Linked DNA regions of Homo sapiens: all the other regions are linked to region 3. The links come from fine-mapping of genetic effects on gene expression. A gene starts in region 3. Each other region holds a variant in brackets. All regions are shown on one strand. Distances are from middle to middle. Region 1 overlaps SAMD12 (sterile alpha motif domain containing 12). Region 2 overlaps SAMD12 (sterile alpha motif domain containing 12). Region 3 holds the start of SAMD12 (sterile alpha motif domain containing 12).

Region 1 (8,183 bases), 150 kb before region 3:
CCCTTTAAAATTCAACTCTTTTTTTTTTATAGAGACTAAAATATTTGGGCAAGATTTGCCAATGAATTTCTAAAATTGGGGCTAATAATCAATTATAAATGGAGGATATTAGCCACTCAAAGATTTATCCCACCATAAGAAACAGTTTGGAACTCCTCCCAAGTCCTATTGAAATGGTCTGGGTTATACTCATGAGACTGCAAACATAAATTAATAGATGCTATACTCTGCTGTGTTGTCTTCACTAAATGGTTTGGTCTTTGTGGAGTTGAAGCAGAGGCAATGTGCATGGTTTTCAGTGCCTGGTCCAGAGGAGGTTCTCCATGCCTGCAGGGTAAGTGATCCCTACAGCCTTAGTTGCAACCCTGGCTGAAAATTAGGATAATCTGAAGAGTTTCTTAAAAGGAGCAAATATACCCCAATCTTAAAATATACCCCAACCAAATTAAATCAGAATCTCTGGGTAGGGTGGGGGAAGAGGGAAGGGAGGAGCTGACCCAGGAGCAATGATTATACTTCACAGCCAAGGGTGAGAACCACTGAACTGGGAAGTACCTTCAGATGGTGAGTGGAACTCATAAAACTTGATGTCTTCCTAATACGATTACTCAACTTTTTTTTTGCTCTGGTACCATGATGAACAAGCAACATTTATTTTATTTTCTAGGTTGACATTTTTTATAGGGGCTAAAAGAAGATGATCAGCTAACCCAAGGCATCTGTCTGCTTGCCAGTTATTGTTCTCATTTTAAATCAATAAAAGGGACTTCTCATTTGTCAGTTGTCTTCTTGTTATTCTCAAACAGTCCTGCACAGTCTCTAGATCTGTTTAATTATATATGACTTCGGACACACACACAGCAAAGGGTAAGACATAGATTTCTCATGACCCTGTCAAGGGCTGCCCTTAGGAGAAGCTATGTAACAGCTTTATCTCTTTTACCAAACTTTAAAGGCAGTTATTTTATGTTAAATGGAATAGTTTTTTTTTAAATTATGGCAAACAATTACATACAAACAAGATATGACGGGCAAATTCTTGACTGCCTTAGTATTCCATGCATATGATAACCATCCATCCTGGCTTACACAGGACCAAGGACATTCTTGGAATCTAGGACTTCGAGTTTTAAAAGTGAGGCAGTCCTGGGGATACCTTAGGGAGCTTCTGGGACTCAAAACTTTCAACACAAAATCCATCTGGGATTAGTTGGTCATCCTAGGTATAGCCCTAGTTTCTCAGATGGATCTTTATTTTCTTTTTAAGAGAGGCTTCATTGATCACCTAGTGGTAACTAAAAGGAAACTAGCATATTAGATGAGGAATTGAAGATATTCTCCATCTCACATCTCATCTCAAACAAATACTCTATTACACTCATAACTAACACGTAGCATAGTGTTATCACAGATGAAATCTCAGTATAGGATTAAAAACACTCACAGTTCAGGCATGGGCAATGTAAAAGAGAAAAAGGAAGTCTCCAGGCAGGTCCAATAGCCTATAGAACAAGGAGAGGCCTTGAACCAGGCCAGTCAGCTGGATCCAGTGTATGGGATCAGGAGCCAAGACAAACTTAAAGCCATGTGGCCACAGCTAACATTTGTTGAGTACTTAGCACATGCACTATACTAAGACACTTACGAAGACTATATGATTTAACCACAACTCTATGAAATAAATATAATTACTATATTCATTTTATTACACTACATAATTATATGTAGTTAGTATATTCATTTTACATAGGAGAAAACTCAAAGCTGTTTAGGGCTTTTATTCACCCTTATTCACTTCCTCCATGTCCAGCCTATAGTAGGCATACCATAAATAACACAAAAGTATTAACTACAAAAAACACCCAAGTGGGGTAAGTATAAATATCTTAAAAGACAATTTAATTAAAATCTTTTGCTTTTTCAGGTATCTTTACAAAATGGCTGACATCTATTTAAGCAGGTCTGTAACCGACCATCCTTTACAAATTACTTAAAGATAAGACGAGAGAAGGATTCATATTAATATTATTAGCCTAACACTCAAGTAAAGTGAAACTACAAATGATGTGTTCTGGCTAGCAGTAATAGGGAGAGAGAGAAAAAAAAATACGTTGTGTGTTAAGAAGGAAAATTAAACCGAAAATTAGATTCCCTGCCCACAAATTTTGACAAATCTTAAAGGAAATTAACCACTTTTCACTTGCTTTGCTGATCACAGAAAGCCTCTGACTCCACTTGACATAAGCAAATAAAGATGGTAACACTTGACATGTAATTCTTGGCTCACTTAATTGGATTGCTTCACAAACCATTTTTGGTAATCAATGATTACTAGTAGTAGTCACAAAAGAGGATAACAGGCAGCTGGGAACAGAAAATGACAGGACTGCATTTTCTTGAGTATCTATTCAGAGGCAGTGGTCCAGCCATGAAATGATTCTGCCTCCTGCCTGAACTTCTTGTTTATACAACTACTTCTGGACCCCCTTGGACCCTCATGACCAATTATAGTTTGGGGATGCTAAAGTCAAACTGCCTGGGTTCAAATCCCAGCTTGACACCTACATAACTCAGAACAAATCTTCTTAGTATGCCTCTGTTACCTTTGTAAAATGGGAACAATTGTGCTATCTCATAGGATTGTTGAAGAACTAAGTGATATAATCCACGTACACTGCTTGGATTGATGCCTCCCACATAGAAAATTTTACATGAATGTTTATTTTTATTATTGCTTTTGTTTTATATTTCAAAAGCTGTGCTACCTCTACTTTAAAGTTAAGCCCTCTGATCCAGATTCTGTTAGAAAAGTCATCTTTTGTGCACCCCTGCAGAACATGTGGCCATGATCTTTGCCACAACGGAAACTCAGCATAAAATACACAATAGCAAGATGTCTGGACAGCAGTCCTTTACTTTACAAGCTTGTTAGATATCGACTCTAGGAAAGCCTTGGGCTTGGCACCTCCTAATCAATTTGGAGACTGGCACAGGTCAAACGTGCTAGTTAGTAAGGATCTGTTTGAATCCTGCTCTGTCAATTATGGTCTAAGACAAAAATGCGGAGTAGATGGTACCCAGTATGTTGATGACAGGGCCAATCAATTTGTGACTTAGGGTGGCTCTTTAGATTACACATTGAAATCGCCAAGACACTCTGTCAATTCAAGAGCCTAAAAGGCTTTGACAAGATCAAAAGACTCATGGCATTATGGACCACGAGTGCATAAAGATGGGGACAATGTGGCACCATGCCACAGATCATTTTATCCATCCAATGGGAGATTGAAATCTGCTACAAGACACCACCTCTTTTTCCTTCAGTAATCTCATTCGTGCAAACCACAAATCTTACTTTGTGGCACGTAACAAGATAGTCTGTCAACAGAACAAATGTGGAAATCAGTGAACTGTAACACACAGCAGAGTACCCTAGCACAAGAAGTATATATGCAGATACACATCCCAGGCCCACTCCTAACAATATGAACAACATAAATGGTGGAAAAACAGCTGTGGCAAGCTGGCCAAAAAGTGTATCATCATAATCTTTGGCAGATTCACCAGGTGGTAACATGAACTAGCAAGGAGAGATGGGTTTTTTTGCCAACTGCCTCTGTAAACCAACCAGTTTTCTTACGTTCACAAAAAACCCACTCCTCTTGGCAGCAGCATCCTCTCCAAAAACGCCAGTGTCTTTCAACTACCCTGCTATTATTGCCATTGGCTCAGAAATGCCTCTAGTAAATAACCCAATGCAAAGAGAGAGCCAGTGAGGCACACGGTTCTTCAGAGAGCTCTGTTGATATGAAGCAATGTTCTATTTTTAATATGAAAGTTTTCAGTGAGCTGGGAGTTGATCTTATAACCTGATTGTCCCTTTCACTCTTTTCTCTCCTTGACTCAAGCACCTGGCAGAATGCTGGGCACACAGCTGTTCGAATGAGTTCAA[T/C]TGAAATGTGGCTTCCTTGTGGCAACATACTAGATTTTTCACCTCTGTTACAACTTGATCACTGACCTTTTTATGAACACTATGCCCTGCTAGAGGAATATGCACAACTTTTGGTAGTTTATCCATGGGTGTATTAATTCTTGTCACTGTGCAGAGAAGGGAGGTACAAAAAGCAATTGCCAAGCTAAGGAGATATAGCACGGTAGCTTATTTTGCTGATGACTAACGAGATGCAAAGGCAAAGTTTTAATCCAAAAGTATTAAGTTGCAGTGAGAGGCTGCTGCTTCATCATATCATATAGGATTCTGCTGGATTTTACTCCTTTCCCATCACATTCATCTCCTTTCTCTGCCTTGGTCCGCACTATTCTTTCTGCCTGGAAGGCAGCCCAGCACATTTCTGCCTGTCCACTAGCAGGTCAAGGTTCAGTCTTCCGCCCTTCCTCCACACAGCAGCCAGAAGTCCCCTTGTCATCTCTCACCTTTTAAAACTACCCATGCCATTCAGATGCCCCTTAGCCTTTACTACCTTGTTGTGTACTTTTTTTGTGGACCTATCTTATCCATGGAAGAGGACAAAATGCTGCAGAGTGGCTACCATAGCTCTATGCTGCAGGATTTTCAGCAGAACTGTGAGGTAAGTGTTATTTCATCCATTTCATAAATGGAGTTCTTGGAGAGTCTATTTGCCTAGCCTGTCACATGATTGGTTCAGTTTCCTTTGCAGAGTTAGGCAAAAACAATGAAAATTTAAGCACACCTATCTTTAACCTTCCTATCTAGGGATCTAGCCCACAAGTATACACATTTATACAGATAAGCATGTAATATATTATATATATATTTTTATATAATATATAATATATATAATATATTATATATATTATATTATTATATATAATATATTATATATGTATTTTTTTTGAGGCAGAGTCTCGCTCTGTCACCCAGGCTAGAGTGCAGTGGCATGATCTCAGCTCACTACAACCTCTGCCTCCCAAGTTCAAGTGATTCTCCTGCCTCAGCCTCCCGAGTAGCTGGGATTATAGGCGCGTGCCACCACGCCTGGCTATTTTTTGTATTTTTAGTAGAGACAGGGCTTCGCCATGTTGGCCAGACTGGACTCAATCTCCTGAACTCAGGTGATCCATCTGCCTCAGCCTCCCAAAGTGCTGGGACTACAGGCGTGAGCCACCATGCCCAGCCTGTACTATAATTTTTATGTAGTTATTTCAACATTAATTGCAATGAAATTACATTCAAAAGAAGCCACATGTCCAGTGACAGAGAAGTGTCTTAATAAATTATGACATGGATACCATAATTTTATATATACACACGCACATACATATATATGTATATAATGGAATACTCCTCATCTTTTAGAGAGTAAGACAGAAAGAGAAAACTACACATGAATATTTCTCAGTGCTGAGAAGAGTAAATACTTGTTGAATGAATGAATAGATCACCAAGATATAGTGTGAGAAAAGCAAATCTCTAAACACTATTATATGACTCCACTTATGCTATAAAGCTATTTGCACACTCACATACACACAGTGTGTTGTCACTCAATATGTTATCTTTTTTTTTTTTTTAAAAAAAAAGGAGGTTTATGTTCATGTATTACTTAGGTAATAAAAAAATAACATGGAAAGCAATAGATAACCTGGTGTGGGTGGCTTAGGTATTAGGTTGTGAAGTAGAAGGTGGACTAAACTTAGCTGCTTTGGAAGCCCCTTCTTTTTCACTTGTACTTTCCTCTGTTTTTATAGTGGAAAGAGCAGACCTGCAGTTGAAAGACTCTTGTTCTGGCTCTGTCAACACTGACCCGAATGACTTTAGCTGAGTCGCCCAACCTGCAGAAGGCTTGTCACTTATTCTTTAGCCAGAGAATAGAAATAATGTCTATCTTCCAAGGTTAACTCTGAGAACAAGTAAGCTGATGCATGTAATAGCTCCTGATCAACTATAAAGCACTATCCAAATGCAGTAGGGTATATTATTTATCATTGTGATTATTACTCCCATAAAATGCTAACACAGTGTCTCACATAGATAAGGCACATAATATAAATTAGGGAAGTGAATGAACATATTAGAATATGTGAATTCACTCTTCTGTATTCATTCAGCATTTGCTCCCTCTAAAGAGTTCTTGTAGTCTTTTAGGGGTATCTTCTCAGGAAAAATTAAAGAGATCTGAATCCTCTATTTCATCTGACATAAGACAGTAATGATTTTAAGACTTGGATTAATTTTATGTACAACTAAGACAGAAAAAGAATGATGCTAAATAAACTATGTCACACAATGTTGCCTGATTTTGAAAATGTGAAAGAATATGTGCATTTAAAAATCTGTGAAATACAGTATTTAAATGAAAGGCTTCAGGCAAATTAGCTGATCAATTATACATTATGTCTCTCAAATGAAATTGCTAATTTAATAATAAAGCATGATTTTCTCATACCAATGGTGTTTTACAGTGCCTTTTCCCCTTTGGATATGCTGGTCACAGCATTTTTTTTTTCATGTTTTAAAAATTATAGAGAATAGATAATTACTAGTGAATGCTGACCTTTTCCTTATTATGAGTAATTGTGCTATTAAAAGCATCATTTGGACCTTAATTTGATATACAAATTATTCAATTACCTAGTCTGCAGTTGTAAGGACTTTTAGCAGTCACCATTATTTGGTGAGGGGGAAGGTTAGCATGAAGCAATTTCATCGTGTACTCCATTGCAAAAATTTTAGTTGTACCAAAACAGTATTAAAGTAGTGGGTAAGCCAATAACGCCATCGAAATGTTTGATGGCACCAAATTATAACCAATGTCACCACTGAAAACATTAGCAGGAGAATAGGCCAAAGAAACTTGACAAAAATCCCTTTGCAAAGCCAAAATTAGAGAATAGGCCAAAGAAACTTGGTAAAAATCCCTTTGCAAAGCCAAAATTAAAGCATGTTGTTAAAAAAGAAAACTACAGTTAAGCAAAAATAACTCATCTTTAGGATGTTTGGGTGTAGTGTCCATGAAACTTGCTCTTGGTCTTAGGTATTTATTTACTGTTTTTGTTTTGGTGGTGGTGATGGCAATAGTAATGGCAGTAGTGGTGGTGACCGTGGTGGTGATGGTGATGACAATGGAGATCCCGGTACCTGATACAGTCCACAAAGTAGGGTGGTAGATCTACCTAAAGAAAATCTACTGCCTAAAGGCAGTGGGATATAGAAAAAACAAAACAAAACTGAGTTTGAATCCCAGTTTCATTACTTACTAGCTGTAGTGTCATTGGAAAATTACTGCTTCAATTTCCTCATCTGTAAAAAGTACACAATAGGCCGGGCGCGGTGGCTCACGCCTGTAATCCCAGCACTTTGGGAGGCCGAGGCGGGTGAATCACGAGGTCAGGAGATCGAGACCATCCTGGCTAACACGGTGAAACCCTGTCTCCACTAAAAATACAAAAAATTAGCCGGGCGTGGTGGTGGGTGCCCGTAGCCCCAGCTATTCAGGAGGCTGAGGCAGGAGTATGGCGTGAACCCGGGAGGCGGAGCTTGCAGTGAGCCGAGATTGTGCCACTGCACTCCAGCCCGGGTGACAGAGCGAGACTCCATCTAAAAAAAAAAAAAAAGAGTACAAGTACATAATAATGCCAAGCACCTTTCAGACTGTTGTCAGGTGTGGTAATGGGTCTCGAAAGCCTGTCACACAGCTGAGTTTCAATAAGTATAAAGAGGCTTGGTGCAGTGGCTCATGCCTCTAAACCCTTGGCTTTGGGAGGCTGAGGCAGGAGGACTGCTTGAGTCCAAAACAAGCCTGGGCAACACAGCAAGACCTCATCTCTAAAAAGAAAAAAATAGCCGGGCATGGCAGCCTGCGCCTGTATTCCCAGCTACTTGGGAGGCTGAGGTGGGAGGATCCCTTTACCCCAGGAGTTTGAGGATATAGTGAGTGATGATCGCACCACTGCACTCCAGCCTGGGCAACAGAATGAGGCCCTTTCTATAATAAATGTTAAAAAAATTAAAAAGGAAGAAGAGCAGGAGGGATTCTACTTATTCAGTGGTTTTCCACTGGAATATCCTAATAGAAGAAAGTGGCTGGTTACAGTAAAAAAGCCTGGTATACATTGCTGACTCAGAATAGAAGGTAATTTGAAAAATTCCACAAATGCCAATCTTATCCACAGCTATTGCCTTGCTGTAGATTTTGACAGGA
Region 2 (8,183 bases), 72 kb before region 3:
GGTCACATTCCTTGAAAATCACACTGAAACTAAAGTACTTGATAGACATTATAGAGACCCAAGGGAAAAACCGCCAAGATTCAGAGACAGCCAAAAACCATGCAAGCAGAGGTGTCTGGCTTCCTGCTTCCTTCTCAACCTTCATTCCCTGCTAACAACTTGGAGAAAGTTCAGTCAGTAGCTCTCATCTCACCACACCACTATTTCTTCAGCACATCCTCCAACTCTGCCTCCCTACAATTTCAGAAACATTAAGGTGAAAGGATGAGGAAACATGTTAGTTTTCTTGAGAACATTCTATGTGCCAGGCATTGTGCTAGGTGCTTCGACATATAACGAAGAGAAGAAGAAATTAAATATAAAAAGGCAAAGTAGTGACTGGAAGTTAAAGCCAACAGCAGACGAATGAGATCACTGGTTTTCAAATTGTTTCACACTAGCTGCAACAGAACCCTCTAGGGCAACTGATAAAATGCCAGTGCCCAGGCCTCAGTCAAATAACTACAAGTCGGTAGACCTTGGATGAGGTCCAAAACTATATAAATATGTGTGTGTGCATGTATACACATGCATGTATAAACATGCACACATATATTTTAAAACAAGAACCCCAGGCCAGGCACAGTGGCTCACACCTGTAATCCCAACACTCTGGGAGGCCGAAGTAGGTGGATTACCTGAGGTCAGAAAGTGGAGACCAGCCTGGCTAACACGGTGAAATCTCATCTCCACTAAAAATACAAAAATTAGCCAGGTGTAGTGGCAGGCACCTGTAATCCCAGCTACTGGGGAGGCTGAGGCAGGAGAATCGCTTGAGCCTGGGAGGCAGAGGTTGCAGTGAACCAAGATCGTGCCATTACACTCCAGCCTGGGTGACAAGAGTGAGAGTCCATCTCAAAAACAAAACAAAACAAAAAACAAGAATCCCAGGCAATTCTAAACACCACACAGGTATTTATGCATAGGTCATCATTAGGACTCCTGAATTAGGGTATCTACTTCTTCAAAACACCATAGTCTTCGCCCAAAGTGGAGGAAAGAGAAAGAGATAACATACTTCAATGAATCTTGATGAACCCAAGACATCATTATTTTACATTTTCCTTAGGAATAGAAAAGAAAAAACATACTGGCAATGAAATCATAATATGCAAGCAACTGTAAGATGCCTCCCAATTTCGGAAATGTTAAAAGGTTTAAAAATTATGCATCTTTGAACAGATGAAATATAGTTAACATGTGTCAAGCTTCCACTAGAGTCTTGGTTAATCTGTGGTTACATGCCTGGCAGGTGGGATGAAATTCCCTGAGTTACATAGCTAGTGAGAGACCGAGCTGATTGTTCCCAACTGCAAAGCCAGAGCCCAGGTACTGCCTTCAGTTACTCCACAGAGCTTATGTGAGTGGTCGAGCTCCAAAACCGGGACCCTTAACCTCTGTCACATACCTCTCCATGGAGCACATGTAAAACATTTAGAATAGTTCGTGGCACAAAGCAAGCTCCAAACAAATGCCATCATTCCTGCCTTCACACAGCTTGCAGTGCAGCGAGAAACCCAGGTGTGATGAGAAGAAAAGCACAGGGTACTATCAGAGAATAGAATAAGGGGACTAAACCAAGCCTTAGGTGGTCAGGCAAGGCTCCTGGACCAATTAACATTTAAGCCAAGACCTGGACAATGTTGAGTAGCACTTAGCATTAAATGAAGAGGTGGAATTGGGAGGGGTTTCTGTAAATCCCAGCCCTGATGTGAAAAGAAGAGCATTATTCTGCTCTCAACCAGAGATAACACTGAATCCAACATTTTTTCCTGGCAGCCCACCCGAGCTTTGTCCATAGGATTCTTATCAGCTTCCAAGGTCGAGAAGGGGCCCACCGGGAGGGGAGGCAAACTTGAATCTCACTGGCTGTCAAGGGAACAGATCAACAGATCTGCTTTCAGGGCAGATGGCAATGGAGCAATAAATTAGCCCTATAAAATACTTTAAATTTAAATGTTTAATCTCTGTTAATTACAATGAGACATTTCTAGAAGATTTTTTTAATAGCAGGCAAACCACAATTACAATGTTGAACTCACTGGAAAGCCCCGCTGCACCTCTCTAACCCCGCATTCCTCCATTTAGGCACTTCAACTTGTTACATTTGGGAATAGCTTTATTATTCAAGGTGATGATGTCAGCCTCCACAGATCTGCAATATGGGGTGGGACAGAAGGAATGCATTACACAGACTCATTGGGAACTGAGCCCAGCAAACACTTGGTGCCTGGAAGAGAACAGAAGGCCACATCAGTTTGCTTTACAGTAGGCTCCTAGCAAACACAAAACCAAATTCAGGCATTTAATTAAGGATACAAAGATTTCCCTCATCCAAGATCACTGAAAACCATTTTTCTTTTCTTTCTTAAAAGAAGGACAAAAGCCATACTGAAAAAGAATGTTTACAGAATATTCAGACTTTTGCTTGAGACTCATTCAGGAGTAAAGAAATAGAAGCTCCAAGTTAGGTAACAGATAAACGCAGAGATGGCAAATATTACAGAATCTAACCTGTGAATACTGAAAGATTAGTGCGAGCTTGCCACTCGTGACCAGGGAAAAAGTTTTACAACAGCATGTTCCACAGGCACGTCTTTTTTAAAAAAAATGTAGCAGCAAACACCTATGAGTCTGCTGAAATTCTCTGGACAACCTCTTTCCTGTTCCCTGCACCTGAATGTCCATCGCCAATTTGTTGGCCAAATCAAGAATGACTTCAGTGAGGCTTTTTTTTTGGTGTCCTTTGAGTAAGGCTAGTTTCTCCCCTCTGTTATCCCCAGCCTGGTCCCTAGAACATACTTCTCTTACTGTAGATAAAGTATTGGGTTGTAATTAATCATTTACACTTCCCTTGCCCCACTAGACTAACTGACCAAGGGCCAAATCCACATCTCATTTACCCAAAGATTCTTGCACCTTACACAGTACTTAGCACAAGTAAGTGTACAATACAGGTTGGGCAAAGTATTAACTGAGCAATGATCTATCCACACTGCTGTCTGCTAAGAGAACTCCAGTCTTTATGGGTTTCTTGAAAGGTAGGGTGAGAGCATACTGAATCACACTCACAGATTATTATAGTATACATCCCAAACTTTGGTCATTTCTAACTTTTTTCTATACCATATAAAATATGTATTTTTCTAGTATTTTTCTTTAAAGTAATTCCCTTTGTTAGTTTTCACCTTGTCCTAAGAAATAACCACAGAAAACCAGATTTGATGTGTTAATTCTATTTTTTTCAAATATACAAAATGTTAAATTACTAAATCAAACACTGTTCATCCTCACACGACCTCCAACCTTCTGGCATATAGTGATAGAGGGGTACATGTAACACACTTGAGGACATCCTGGATTAATAAAATATTCAAGCTGAAAAGGTCACTCGAGGTTACCAAACCCAACTCTTCATAAACAGAGAAGGAAACCACAGCCCAGGAGGACCTTATTTCTTTCTCAACTCATGAAGAAATTAGTGAGAGAATAGACAAAGAATGAAATTACACAGAGAATGGACAAGCATCCAGGGCCTCAAGTTCCCATGTTAGTGCTTTTGCTCTGACAACTGGGACAAATATGAGCAACAGACAAAAGCTGTAACATATAGCAAATATGTTCACGATATTTTAAAAGATACCCTTTTATAAAAACACTGGAAGAAAACAAAACAGGCTCCAGTGGGGTAATAGATATATGATTCCTTCCCTTTCCAAATTTCCTAATAACTTACAATGTGTTCATAATACCCTTTACACTAAAAACACACATACACACACACACACACACACACACACACACACACACACACCCCATGTGATGGGTAACTTAATGTGTTAACTTGGTTAAGTTATGGTGTCTAGTTGTTTGGTCAAATGTGTCTAGATGTTACTCTAAAGGTATTTGTTAACATCTACAACTGGAGGGGAGGAGCCAAGATGGCCGAATAGGAACAGCTCCAGTCTACAGCTCCCAGCGTGAGCGACGCAGAAGACGGGTGATTTCTGCATTTTCATCTGAGGTACCGGGTTCATCTCACTAGGGAGTGCCAGAGAGTGGGCGCAGGTCAGTGGGTGCAGCGCACCGTGCGCGAGCCGAAGCAGGGCGAGGCATTGCCTCACTCGGGAAGTGCAAGGGGTCAGGGAGTTCCCTTTCCTAGTCAAAGAAAGGGGTGACAGACGGCACCTGGAAAATCGGGTCACTCCCACCCACATACTGTGCTTTTCCGACAGACTTAAAAAATGGTGCACCACGAGATTATATCCCGCACCTGGCTTGGAGGGTCCTACGCCCACGGAGTCTCCCTGATTGCTAGCACAGCAGTCTGAGATCAAAGTGCAAGGCGGCAGCCAGGCTGGGGGAGGGGCGCCCGCCATTG[C/T]GCAGGCTTGCTTAGGTAAACGAAGCAGCCAGGAAGCTGGAACTGGGTGGAGCCCACCACAGCTCAAGGAGGCCTGCCTGCCTCTGTAGGCTCCACCTCTGGGGGCAGGGCACAGACAAACAAAAAGACAACAGTAACCTCTGCAGACTGAAATGTCCCTGTCTGACAGCTTTGAAGAGAGCAGTGGTTCTCCCAGCACACAGCTGGAGATCTGAGAACGGGCAGACTGCCACCTCAAGTGGGTCCCTGACCCCTGACCCCCGAGCAGCCTAACTGGGAGGCACCCCCCAAGTAGGGGCAAACTGACACCTCACACAGCCAGGTACTCCTCTGAGACAAAACTTCCAGAGGAAATATCAGACAGCAGCATTCGTGGTTCACGAAAAACCACTGTTCTGCAGACACCGCTGCTGATAACCAGGCAAACAGGGTCTGGAGTGGACCTCTAGCAAACTCCAACAGACCTGCAGCTGAGGGTCCTGTCTGTTAGAAGGAAAACTAACAAACAGAAAGGACATCCACACCAAAAACCCATCTGTATATCTCCATCATCAGAGGCCAAAAGTAGATAAAACCACAAAGATGGGGAAAAAACAGAGCAGAAAAACTGGAAACTCTAAAAAGCAGAGCACCTCTCCTCCTCCAAAGGAACGCAGTTCCTCACCAGCAATGGAACAAAGCTGGACGGAGAATGACTTTGACAAGTTGAGAGAAGAAGGATTCAGACGATCAAACTACGAGCTACAGGAAGAAATTCAAACCAAAGGTAAAGAAGTTAAAAACTTTGAAAAAAATTTAGACGAATGTATAACTAGAATAACCAATACAGAGAAGTGCTTAAAGGAACTGATGGAGCTGAAAGCCAAGGCTCCAGAACTACATGAAGAATGCAGAAGCCTCAGGAGCCGATGCGATCAACTGGAAAAAAGGGTATCAGCAATGGAAGATGAAATGAATGAAATGAAGCGAGAAGGGAAGTTTAGGGAAAAAAGAATAAAAAGAAATGAACAAAACCTCCAAGAAATATGGGACTATGTGAAAAGACCAAATCTACGACTGATTGGTGTACCTGAAAGTGACAGGGAGAATGGAACCAAGCTGGAAAACACTCTGCAGGATATTATCCAGGAGAGCTTCCCCAACCCAGCAAGGCAGGCCAACATTCAGATTCAGGAAACACAGAGAACGCCACAAAGATACTCCTTGAGAAGAGCAACTCCAAGACACATAATTGTCAGATTCACCAAAGTTGAAATGAAGGAAAAAATGTTAAGGGCAGCCAGAGAGCAAGGTCGGGTTACCCACAAAGGGAAGCCCATCAGACTAACAGTGGATCTCTCTGCAGAAACCCTACAAGCCAAAAGAGAGTGGGGGCCAATATTCAACATTCTTAAAGAAAAGAATTTGCAACCCAGAATTTCATATCCAGCCAAATTAAGCTTCATAAGTGAAGGAGAAATAAAATACTTTACAGACAAGCAAATGCTGAGAGATTTTGTCACCAGCAGGCCTGCCCTAAAAGAGCTCCTGAAGGAAGCACTAAACATGGAAAGGAACAACCGGTACCAGCCGCTGCAAAATCATGCCAAAATGTAAAGACCATCAAGACTAGGAAGAAACTACATCAACTAACGAGCAAAATAACCAGCTAACATCATAATGACAGGTTCAAATTCACACATAACAATATTAACTTTAAATGTAAATGGACTAAATGCTCCAATTAAAAGACACAGACTGGCAAATTGGATAAAGAGTCAAGACCCATCAGTGTGTTGTATTCAGGAAACCCATCTCACATGCAGAGACACACATAGGCTTAAAATAAAAGGATGGAGGAAGATCTACCAAGCAAATGGAAAACAAAAAAAGGCAGGGTTTGCAATCCTAGTCTCTGATAAAACAGACTTTAAACCAACAAAGATCAAAAGAGACAAAGAAGGCCATTACATAATGGTAAAGGGATCAATTCAACAAGAAGAGCTAACTATCCTAAATATATATGCACCCAATACAGGAGCACCCAGATTCATAAAGCAAGTCCTGAGTGACCTACAAGGAGACTTAGACCACACATTAATAATGGGAGACTTTAACACCCCACTGTCAACATTAGACAGATCAACGGGACAGAAAGTCAACAAGGATACCCAGGAATGGAAATCAGCTCTGCACCAAGCAGACCTAATAGACATCTACAGAACTCTCCACCCCAAATCAAGAGAATATACATTTTTTTCAGCACCACACCACACCTATTCCAAAACTGAACACATAGTTGGAAGTAAAGCTCTCCTCAGCAAATGTAAAAGAACAGAAATTATAACAAACTGTCTCTCAGACCATAGTGCAATCAAACTAGAACTCAGGATTAAGAATCTCACTCAAAACCGCTCAACTACATGGAAACTGAACAACCTGCTCCTGAATGACTACTGGGTACATAACGAAATGAAGGCAGAAATAAAGATGTTCTTTGAAACCAACGAGAACAAAGACACAACATACCAGAATCTCTGGGACACATTCAAAGCAGTGTGTAGAGGGAAATTTATAGCAGTAAATGCCAACAAGAGAAAGCAAGAAAGATCCAAAATTGACACCCTAACATCACAACTAAAAGAACTAGAAAAGCAAGAGCAAACACATTCAAAAGCTAGCAGAAGGCAAGAAATAACTAAAATCAGAGCAGAACTGAAGGAAATAGAGACACAAAAAACCCTTCAAAAAATTAATGAATCCAGGAGCTGGTTTTTTGAAAGGATCAACAAAATTGATAGACCGCTAGCAAGACTAATAAAGAAAAAAAGAGAGAAGAATCAAACAGATGCAATAAAAAATGATAAAGGGGATATCACCACCGATCCCACAGAAATACAAACTACCATCAGAGAATACTACAAATACGTCTACGCAAATAAACTAGAAAATCTAGAAGAAATGGATAAATTCCTCGACACATACACTCTCCCAAGACTAAACCAGGAAGAAGTTGAATCTCTGAATAGACCAATAACAGGAGCTGAAATTGTGGCAATAATCAATAGCTTACCAACCAAAAAGAGTCCAGGACCAGATGGATTCACAGCCGAATTCTACCAGAGGTACGAGGAGGAACTGGTACCATTCCCTCTGAAACTATTCCAATCAATAGAAAAAGAGGGAATCCTCCCTAACTCATTTTATGAGGCCAGCATCATCCTGATACCAAAGCCGGGCAGAGACACAACAAAAAAAGAGAATTTTAGACCAATATCCTTGATGAACATTGATGCAAAAATCCTCAATAAAATACCGGCAAACCGAATCCAGCAGCACATCAAAAAGCTTATCCACCATGATCAAGTGGGCTTCATCCCTGGGATGCAAGGCTGGTTCAATATATGCAAATCAATAAATGTAATCCAGCATATAAACAGAACCAAAGACAAAAACCACATGGTTATCTCAATAGATGCAGAAAAGGCCTTTGACAAAATTCAACAACCCTTCATGCTAAAAACTCTCAATAAATTAGGTATTGATGGGACGACGTATTTCAAAATAATAAGAGCTATCTATGACAAACCCACAGCCAGTATCATATTGAATGGGCAAAAACTGGAAGCATTCCCTTTGAAAACTGGCACAAGACAGGGATGCCCTCTCTCACCACTCCTATTCAATGTAGTGTTGGAAGTTCTGGCCACGGCAATTAGGCAGGAGAAGGAAATAAAGGGTATTCAATTAGGAAAAGAGGAAGTCAAATTGTCCCTGTTCACAG
Region 3 (8,183 bases):
TTATGAGAATCTAATGCCTGATGATCTGAGGTGGAACAGTTTCATCCCAAAACCATCCCCCATGGAAAAACTGTCTTCCATGAATCTGATCCCTGGTGCCAAAAAGGTTAAGGACCACTAGCATAGAGGGAGGCATCCCTATGACGGGTAAGTTCACTGCTGCATACAATATTAGCAAGCCCACTTACCCTCCAACCCAAAGTCAGAAAAAAATAACCCACTATAAGCTTGTGATAAAAATGATGTTTTTATCTCCCATGTGACTCCTTTTACTCTCTGTGATGCAGTTCTGAGTTCAAGTTGGGTACAAAGTCATCATTTATGGGGCTGCAAAGCCCAGTGTTTACCGTGACTGCTTCTATTTGTCACAAACGTTTGACGCTATCTCATTTCCCATTTTCCCAGTCACCGTTATTATTACTTAGCCTTACAATATTTTGGTGATGTGTAGTTTCTTCACTCTTCTACAGGAGAAAAAACATAGAACCTGAGCACTGAATGACTTATCAGAAGATATTTGGTAAGCTACCATGTTCATTTATGATGGAAAATTCAGATCCCTTAATATAGATGTCATTAAGAGCACACAGTCTTGCATTTGACATGTTTTTCTTGGGGAGAGAGGTGAGTGCTGAATATTGGAAATCATTTTTCTGCCACATGAGAGGTGCTATTCTGTTAGACCTGGAATAGAAATTACCATGTACAATGTCCATCCTCCCTATTTTTTTCATAAATATCTGAGGACAAAGCAAGAAAAGGAATTGGGGATGAGGGGTAAAAAAAAAATCCTTCTCTAGCTCTGGAGACTCGTGCATTTATATGTCATTCATGAAACAATGACTGTGGGCCTCCTAAGTGCCAGGCGCCATCCCTGGAATACAGAGATGAATACAAAGATGAATACGACACTGTCCCCAATGAATCCACATTTTTCTTCTCCCTGAATAATATTGCAACCCATTTCTGTTAGAAAACATCAATAGGTTTAACCGTCTATACACAGTCTGTCCATAGAGAATGGATTAGTTTGGGGTCCCTGCTACCTCCTTCCAAGAGGTCCTAGTCCCCAGTCCTGCTAAATTATTTCACAAGACATTGTTTTTGTTTTTTTTTTTTTTAAAAAAAGGCAATGTATGCCAGTATAATCCTAATCCAAATGCAGACCATAAGGTCGTACCCTGTTCTGTGGCGGGAAAGCATACCTGTAAGCTGCCCATAAATGCAAAGCATGGGTCACAAGCAGACTAGGAGACATAAATAGGATGTTGCAAATAAACTAAGAAGAAAACATAACACAGGGTAGTTACAAAACAATAAACAAAGGGCACCTCTTTTTCATCTTAAACACACGGCTGCAGGTTCAGCAAAGTGAATGAGTGAACTACTTGCTAGTAACACTTTTACAAATTCAAGTTTACTTAAGAAAAAGTTACACATAGTAAAAAACCTTCTAATTTGTTACTAATTAGAAAAACTGGCTGGCATGAATAAGTGAAAATTCAGGATATAAAACACATGCCAAATAGTATAGCTTTTCCTAAGAGAAGGGATGAGAGTACAAGTGATATTTACTTAGGATGCAGGTTCCAGACACCCTTCTAGAAGCCCTCTCCTTTATTTAATCCTCACAATGAGCAGGGCACGGTGGCTCACTCCTGTAATCCCAGCACTTTGGGAGGCCGAGGCGGGCGGATCACGAGGTTAGGAGATGGAGACCATCCTGGCTAACATGGTGAAACTCTGTCTCTACTAAAAGTACAAAAAAATCAGCCGGGCGTGGTAGCAGGCACCTGTAGCCCAGCTACTCGGGAGGCTGAGGCAGGAAAATGGCGTGAACCCGGGAGGCGGAGCTTGCAGTGAGCCGAGATCGCGCCACTGCATTCCAGCCTGGGCGACAGAGCAAGACTCCGTCTCAAAAAAAAAAAAAAAAATCCTCACAATGTTCCCAGGAGGAAAGCAGTAGTGAGCCCATTTTTTCCAGATGTGGAGACTAAAGCTTAGAATGTTAAGCAATTCGAACTGTATTTTCTATTCCAGTTCCTCTGGCAAAACTCCTTATTCTCTGAAGCAGCATTTCTCAATAAGTTGGGTAAACTGATCATTACTTGGCCATGGCTTGGCCTCGTTATACGGGATGGCCATGCGCTGCAGGACATTTATTATCTGTGGCCATGGGCACAAAATACCAACAGCAGCCCCCAGCAGCAGTTCCTACATATCCCAAATGTGTCCAGGGACAATGTCACCCAGCAGTAGAGGTAAACTGTTCTAAAAGATTTTTTGGGCATCAAGACAAAAGACTGAAGAGAAGGGCACTTCGAGGTGGGCAGATCACGAGGTCAGGAGATCGAGACCATCCTGGCTAACATGGTGAAACTCCGTCTCTACTAAAAATACCAAAAAAATTAGCCAGGCATGGTGGCGGGTGCCTATAGTCCCAGCTACTTGGGAGGCTGAGGCAGGAGAATGGCGTGAACCTGGGAGGCGGAGCTTGCAGTGAGCTGAGACCGCGCCACTGTACTCTAGCCTGGGCGACAGAGCAAGACTCTGTCTCAAAAAAAAAAAAAAAAAAATCTCCCATCCTCAAATCTGTCAGAAATCCCTTATTGTATCACATTTAGGCTTCCAAGAAAGCCCCATGTACCCTTATAGAACCAGTTACAAAACCTCCATGAATATATTTGCCATGCAATTCATGAGCATTGAGTACCTATTATGGGCAAAGTACTGTGCTATGAGCTAGGAATATAAAGTCCAAGTCTAACCCCCAAGGGGGTTAGAGTCTAGTAAGAGGCAGATTAAGTATGATAAGTATTAAGATAAATGTGAGCAGGAGGCACTTCCCATAGACTGGAAAGAGTGCTGAGAAGGCAGAAGAAAAAGGAGGGCTGGGACAGTTTCCCAGAGGAAGTGACATTTTCCCAAAGGCTTGAAAGACCAAGTAGGAGTAACCAGGAAGGGACTGGTCCAGGCTGATATCTTTGCAAAGACCAAAGATAGGAATCATATTTGAAGTTAAAGTTTAAAATACTTCCTTCATTCTTTGAGACCTCATTGTGATTCAAACTCAGGATCTCCTGTTTACTAGACAGGTACTTTAACCAAGTCACTAGAAAATAAACTCTCCATAGTCCACATGTACTTCCTTCCTAAGTTCTTGTTTTTGTAAAGTCTGGCTTCACTGGTGTAATCACCCATCACGCAAGAAATAAGACAAATTTATACTTCTTACAGGGAACAAGAAATTGTTTTCGAGAACAGTGTGGACTAGCAACAAAGAGGAGTGTCCCTGTCTTGGGGACACAGGAGTGGTGAAGACGAGAGATCATAATCAGTGTCACCTGATGGGTGACATAGAACGGACACTTAAGGAGTAGGTCAACATATCCTTGGTCTCAAGCTCAAGATGAACTTTATCTCGGCTTTTGTTTTGTTCTTTGGCATCTGAAGTCTTGACTATCAAGCATAACGATGCAAAAAAAAAAAAAAAAAAAAAAAAAAGATTCTCACCCTACTGGTACATTTGCACAGAAAAGAAAACCTAGAAAAATCTTGATTGTAAGAGAGAGAGAGGATTTCATTTTTGTTAATAAAGTTAGGAAAGCTGGAAGTGGCTGGCTGTGGATCTCTGAACCTGAGATAGCCCAAAGGCAAGAGTTTCCCGAGTTTATGGGTGCTGAGTATAGGAGCTGGGTTGTTGCTACTTCAGGTTGTTAAGACAGTCGTTATAAGGGGAGCAAGAGTCAGATTAGTTCAATTTCTTTCTCCTGGGGCAGGGAGGAGAGGGAGCAGCAAGCCAGCCTCGTGGCCTTCTCGTCTCTAGCCTACAAGGAATAGGCTGATTTCCCCTTGGCAAGGCGCCTGAAGCAGCTGGCAGGCAAGCCCTCCTCTTCCTACTTCAGTACGCCCTCTGACCTGACTGCACTCAGAAACCAAAATTCTGCAGGTGAATGTAGGCTCCCATTTCGTCCCACAATCATTTCATCATTCAGGCACAGCTTGACCTCTAATGTGACATCACAAACCCTTCCGGTCCACAGTTTTTTTTTCTTCTTCAGAAACTACCTAAACAAGGAAGTTTGTGTTCCAAGGTAAGATAACCTGAAATGAAAAACTCAGGATCCCTCACGAACAGCCTGACCCTGCTTTCAACCAGGAAGTTCAAGGGAGGCAGGACTTTACGGTCAAAACTGCAAAGCCGAAGCTCAAGACTGTAAGAAGAAAGTGATCTTCAAAGAAAAGGATTCACCCAAATCGAAGAGGTTGTTGCACTTCTTTTCCCTGGCTGATTACATTTCATGTCTGTAAACTTTGCTAAGCCCGGGGCGCTGGCTGTATAAGCAGAGACAGGTGTAGGGACACCTCTACCCTCTGGGTACATCTGCGGCCGCCGCTGCTGGGTGCATAGGACGAAGGGCCCTCGACCCAATCCCAGTCCAAGCTTCCGGATGACGCACCTGGGCTGGGGACCTCTCCCACGTGAGGGGGGCCAACCAAGCATCCCCAGCCCCGGGGCCACCCAGCCTGCTCCGGAGGGAGGGGGCAGGGAAAAAGGGCATCTCGGGGCCAAAACCTCATGCCGGATCCTCCGGCTTTCCCCCCATTTCCAGGATATCGTTTCGCATCAGGGACACTCGTCTCCACACCTCCTACCTCAAAGTCCTACGCACCTACCCTTCACGTCTCTCCAAAGCAACTGAATTAAAGCGCCTACTGGCCTTGGCGGCGCAGGTGAGTGCCAAGAGGTGGAGGAGGAAGGGGCCCGCTCTCCGCCACCCCCTTTCCTCGCCTCCCCACGATCGCCAAGCTTCATCGGGGATGTGTGCCTTGGGGTGCGCGGGTTAAGAGGGAGCTTAAAAATGCCCCAAGCGTCCCTTACCTTCCACAGCCATTCTCTCAGAGCTTCCCTAACGCATGCATAATTTTCTTGGCCGAGGTACTCCTCCTGCCCCGCGCTCCCCCCTTCCTCTCGCTTTCGCCTAAATATTCTGCGCTTATCTGCTCCAGGACCAACCTGCCGCGGTCACGCAAAGCGAGGCAGCCGGCTCCCGGCTCGGCGCGCGCAGGGCGTCCTGGGAAGTGTAGTTCCCTCCCTTCGCTCGGACTGGGGAGAGCACCCCGACTCCTCCGCGGAGTGCCGCCTGGCCCCGACACTTGGAGAGCAACTCCAGCTTCAGCTGGCCAGGCCGAGCAATCTCTCCTGGGGAAGTTGTGAGGGGACCAGGGATGCCTGGTTGTGGCGGGGCGGGGGGGGAGGGGGGGGGGGTTCCCGGGAAGCGGTCTGGACTACATCTCCCAGGAGGCCGTGCGCTGAGATAGGTTCGCTGCTAAGAGTAGGGACCCGTGATTGAGCCCTTCCCTGTCCATTACAAGGGGTTTGGCACCTAGCAGGTGTGGTGAGGTGGGCAGGTGACGGTCAGCTGTGTGATGAGCTCCTGCGAGCTCGTCCGTGGGCCTCTGCCGCCGGTACCGCCCCGCCCCCTGGCCTCCTGAACCACCATTTAGTAGGGAGAGCAGGACCACTGTCCTCCTGTGTGGTTCTCCACCTGGGCCAGAGAACGCTGCCCAGGGTGAGGTTGAAACTTGTTCCTTCGCACCCTGAGATGTATGGGTTTTGTGGGGGAATTCCGACGGTTGATACAGTTGTCTTATCCTACAGGGTGGTTCAGGTGGCTAAATACTTGGCATGGGGGTGTAGGGGAGGAGGAGTGGCTTAAACCCCAATAGGCAACGTCCCCAAGGGGTTGTTAGGAACAAAGTCTGGGAGCCAGGATTGCACCGGAGGAGGTCAGATGAAAGCCTGTCTGGCTTCCAGGATAGGAGGCTTTCAATTTGCCTAGACTTGGAGCCTGTTGACAGCCTGTGATAGGGCCTAATAATTAACAGTGCCTGAGAATCAGGTTCCTTCAACTTCTGAACCTATGTCCTAGCTGTAGGTGCTGGGGATGCTATAAGCAGACATGATAATGGGAATCACGTGGATAGCAATACAATTCGACAGCTCGTAAAAATTAAGTTTCTAAACATTTTTTCCTGCGTGTGAAAATACGGATACAGTTGTGGCTGGAAGGGGTAAGGGAATAGCCTCGGGAATAAATCTGGCTCAAGACTGGATTGACTTTTAAAGGCCTTCAGTTTACAAATGTATTTGGTACCACATCCACCCAGTCACTCATATATAATGTTAATCTCTGTAAAATGAGGAAGTACAAAAATCGGATTCTTCCCATGATGACTACTTAGACATTTTTGTGTGTCTTGGTCATCAGCAAAAAAAAAAAAATGTTTTTCAAAACAATTTCGTTTCTCAGTGTATACATGCACACCTGTTGTTCTGGTCACTAATTACATGCTTAGTTCCCCTACTGGGTAATATATAATAATAATATGTGTATAGGTACTTTAAAAAATACCTGCGTGTAACCATTAAATGCTCTTGTTGATACTTTAATTCTGAGTCCATGGAGCTGTGTACAAGTCAAACCTAAGCCTCTCTTTTAGGTACAGTAGAGAGAGACCCATTCAGTGAGACATAATTTCCATGGGAAAAAGAATTTTCCGACCTAATACACAGCCAAGCATTCTAAACTCTGGAAAGAACTGAAATCCAGGTGCTTCACTACTTTATGTATATAAAATCACCAAAGTGTTAAGTATTTTCTGAGATTGAATGAATGTGAAAGAAAGCCATAGGACAGGTAGTATCAATGGTTCTCAACCTTGGCTGTGCATCAGCCTTCTACAAATATATATTCCTAAGCTTTTATCTTAGTCTCACAGAATCAGAGCTTATGGGGGTTTGGGTAGAGGCACTCAGGTTTTAAAAACCCACAGGTGATTCCAGTCTTCATTGAGGGTGAAAACCATTGGTCTGGTTCCAAGCTTTTAAATATCTGGGTGATATAAAAATATAAAAGTCATTGAAATCTGTGGTTAATTTTAAAACTTCATCTTAGCTCATCTTTAATATTTTTCCCAGTGATGTGCATTCTAGACGAGTTTTATTTTTAGTATAAATAAAATGTGAAGGAGATGTTAGTTTCTACCATATGAAATAGCCAATGTTTGACCATTTTTAAAACCTACAAATAGAACAATTTCATGTGGTTCTGCCTAATAAGGGATAAACAATAGTTGCGCAGAGGTTTTCAATTCTGGCTGAACATTAGAATCACCTGGGAAGTACTAAAAAAAAATTACATTTATCTCTAGAATGTTTGAAAGATAAAGACACAAAATACCAACCGTTGGCAAGATTGTGAAGCAATAAAGATTTATATATTGCTGGTGGTGTGCAAATTCACAAAACCACTTTGGAAAACCATCTGAAATATTCAGCTGAATATATGCTTATCCTGTGACCCAGAAGTTCTACTCCTAGGTTTACACCAAACAAATATGCATACAGATGTTCTCCAAAAGACATGTGCAAGAATGTTTGTGGCTGCATTATTTTAATGTTCCCAAATGGAAAACAACTCAAATATTTATCAACACAGATTGGAGAGATGAACTGTGGTATAACCAAATAATTCCATATAGCAGGGGTCAACAAACTAAGACCAATGAGCCAAATATGGCTCACCATTTATTTCTTATAACTCACCAGCTAGGTGTGATTTTTACATTTTTAAATGGTTGGAAAAAAAACAAAAAAAGTATAATTTGCAAAGCCTGGAAATTATAAAGACATACTTACATAATATCCTCAATTTTGCCTCTTGTCCTACAAAGCCTCAAATATTTCCTACCTGATCCTTTGCAGAAAAAAAGCTTTCCAAACCCTCCTATAAAGTAATGCAAATGAAGGAATTACAATTGTATACAACAACATGATGAGCCACATGTATTAATCGATTGCTGTTAACAAATTATCCCAATATTTAGTGGTTTACAACAATACCCATGTATTACTTCAGTTTCTGTGGCTCAGTAATTTGGGCACAGCTTAGCTTCTGCTTTAGTATCTTTCACAGACTGCAATCATGACTTATTTTTGGTCTTTTTTATCAGCAGCCAAGTACAGTTCCTAACAGATATACCCAATTTTAGCAAGGGGCAAAGTCCAGACCTCATCCCATACCTCTCATAAGCCAAATTCTGTGTTCATTATGATGCTATTGTTTGTTCCTTATAGTATATAAGCACTTCGAGTGCTGGAACTGAGTCTTATGCTTCAT

Evidence for each region. PIP is the estimated chance that this variant, and not a neighbour inherited with it, causes the effect.
Region 1: its variant is the best candidate, but not a certain one, in a credible set for the expression of SAMD12 in whole blood (TOPMed, PIP 0.65).
Region 2: its variant is the best candidate, but not a certain one, in a credible set for the expression of SAMD12 in whole blood (TOPMed, PIP 0.55).

The regions. Positions count from the first base shown.
Region 1 is chr8:118,464,705-118,472,887 of GRCh38, forward strand. All of the region lies in intron 2 of SAMD12 (sterile alpha motif domain containing 12), which reads right to left. Among named protein-coding and RNA genes, the nearest start is that of SAMD12-AS1, 150 kb to the right of the region's middle. The variant T/C (reference allele first, on the strand shown) is at 3,953.
Region 2 is chr8:118,544,572-118,552,754 of GRCh38, forward strand. The region is part of intron 2 of SAMD12 (sterile alpha motif domain containing 12); the gene reads right to left. Among named protein-coding and RNA genes, the nearest start is that of SAMD12-AS1, 72 kb to the right of the region's middle. The variant C/T (reference allele first, on the strand shown) is at 4,421.
Region 3 is chr8:118,616,922-118,625,104 of GRCh38, forward strand. SAMD12 (sterile alpha motif domain containing 12) reads right to left here and starts at 5,042. Exons shown (of 4, transcript NM_207506.3): 1 at 4,883-5,042. The coding sequence starts at 4,895. SAMD12-AS1 (SAMD12 antisense RNA 1) reads left to right here and starts at 4,080. Exons shown (of 5, transcript NR_038210.1): 1 at 4,080-4,265; 2 at 4,614-4,734. RefSeq lists enhancers at 4,035-4,084, 4,115-4,324, 4,935-5,134 and a silencer at 5,235-5,384.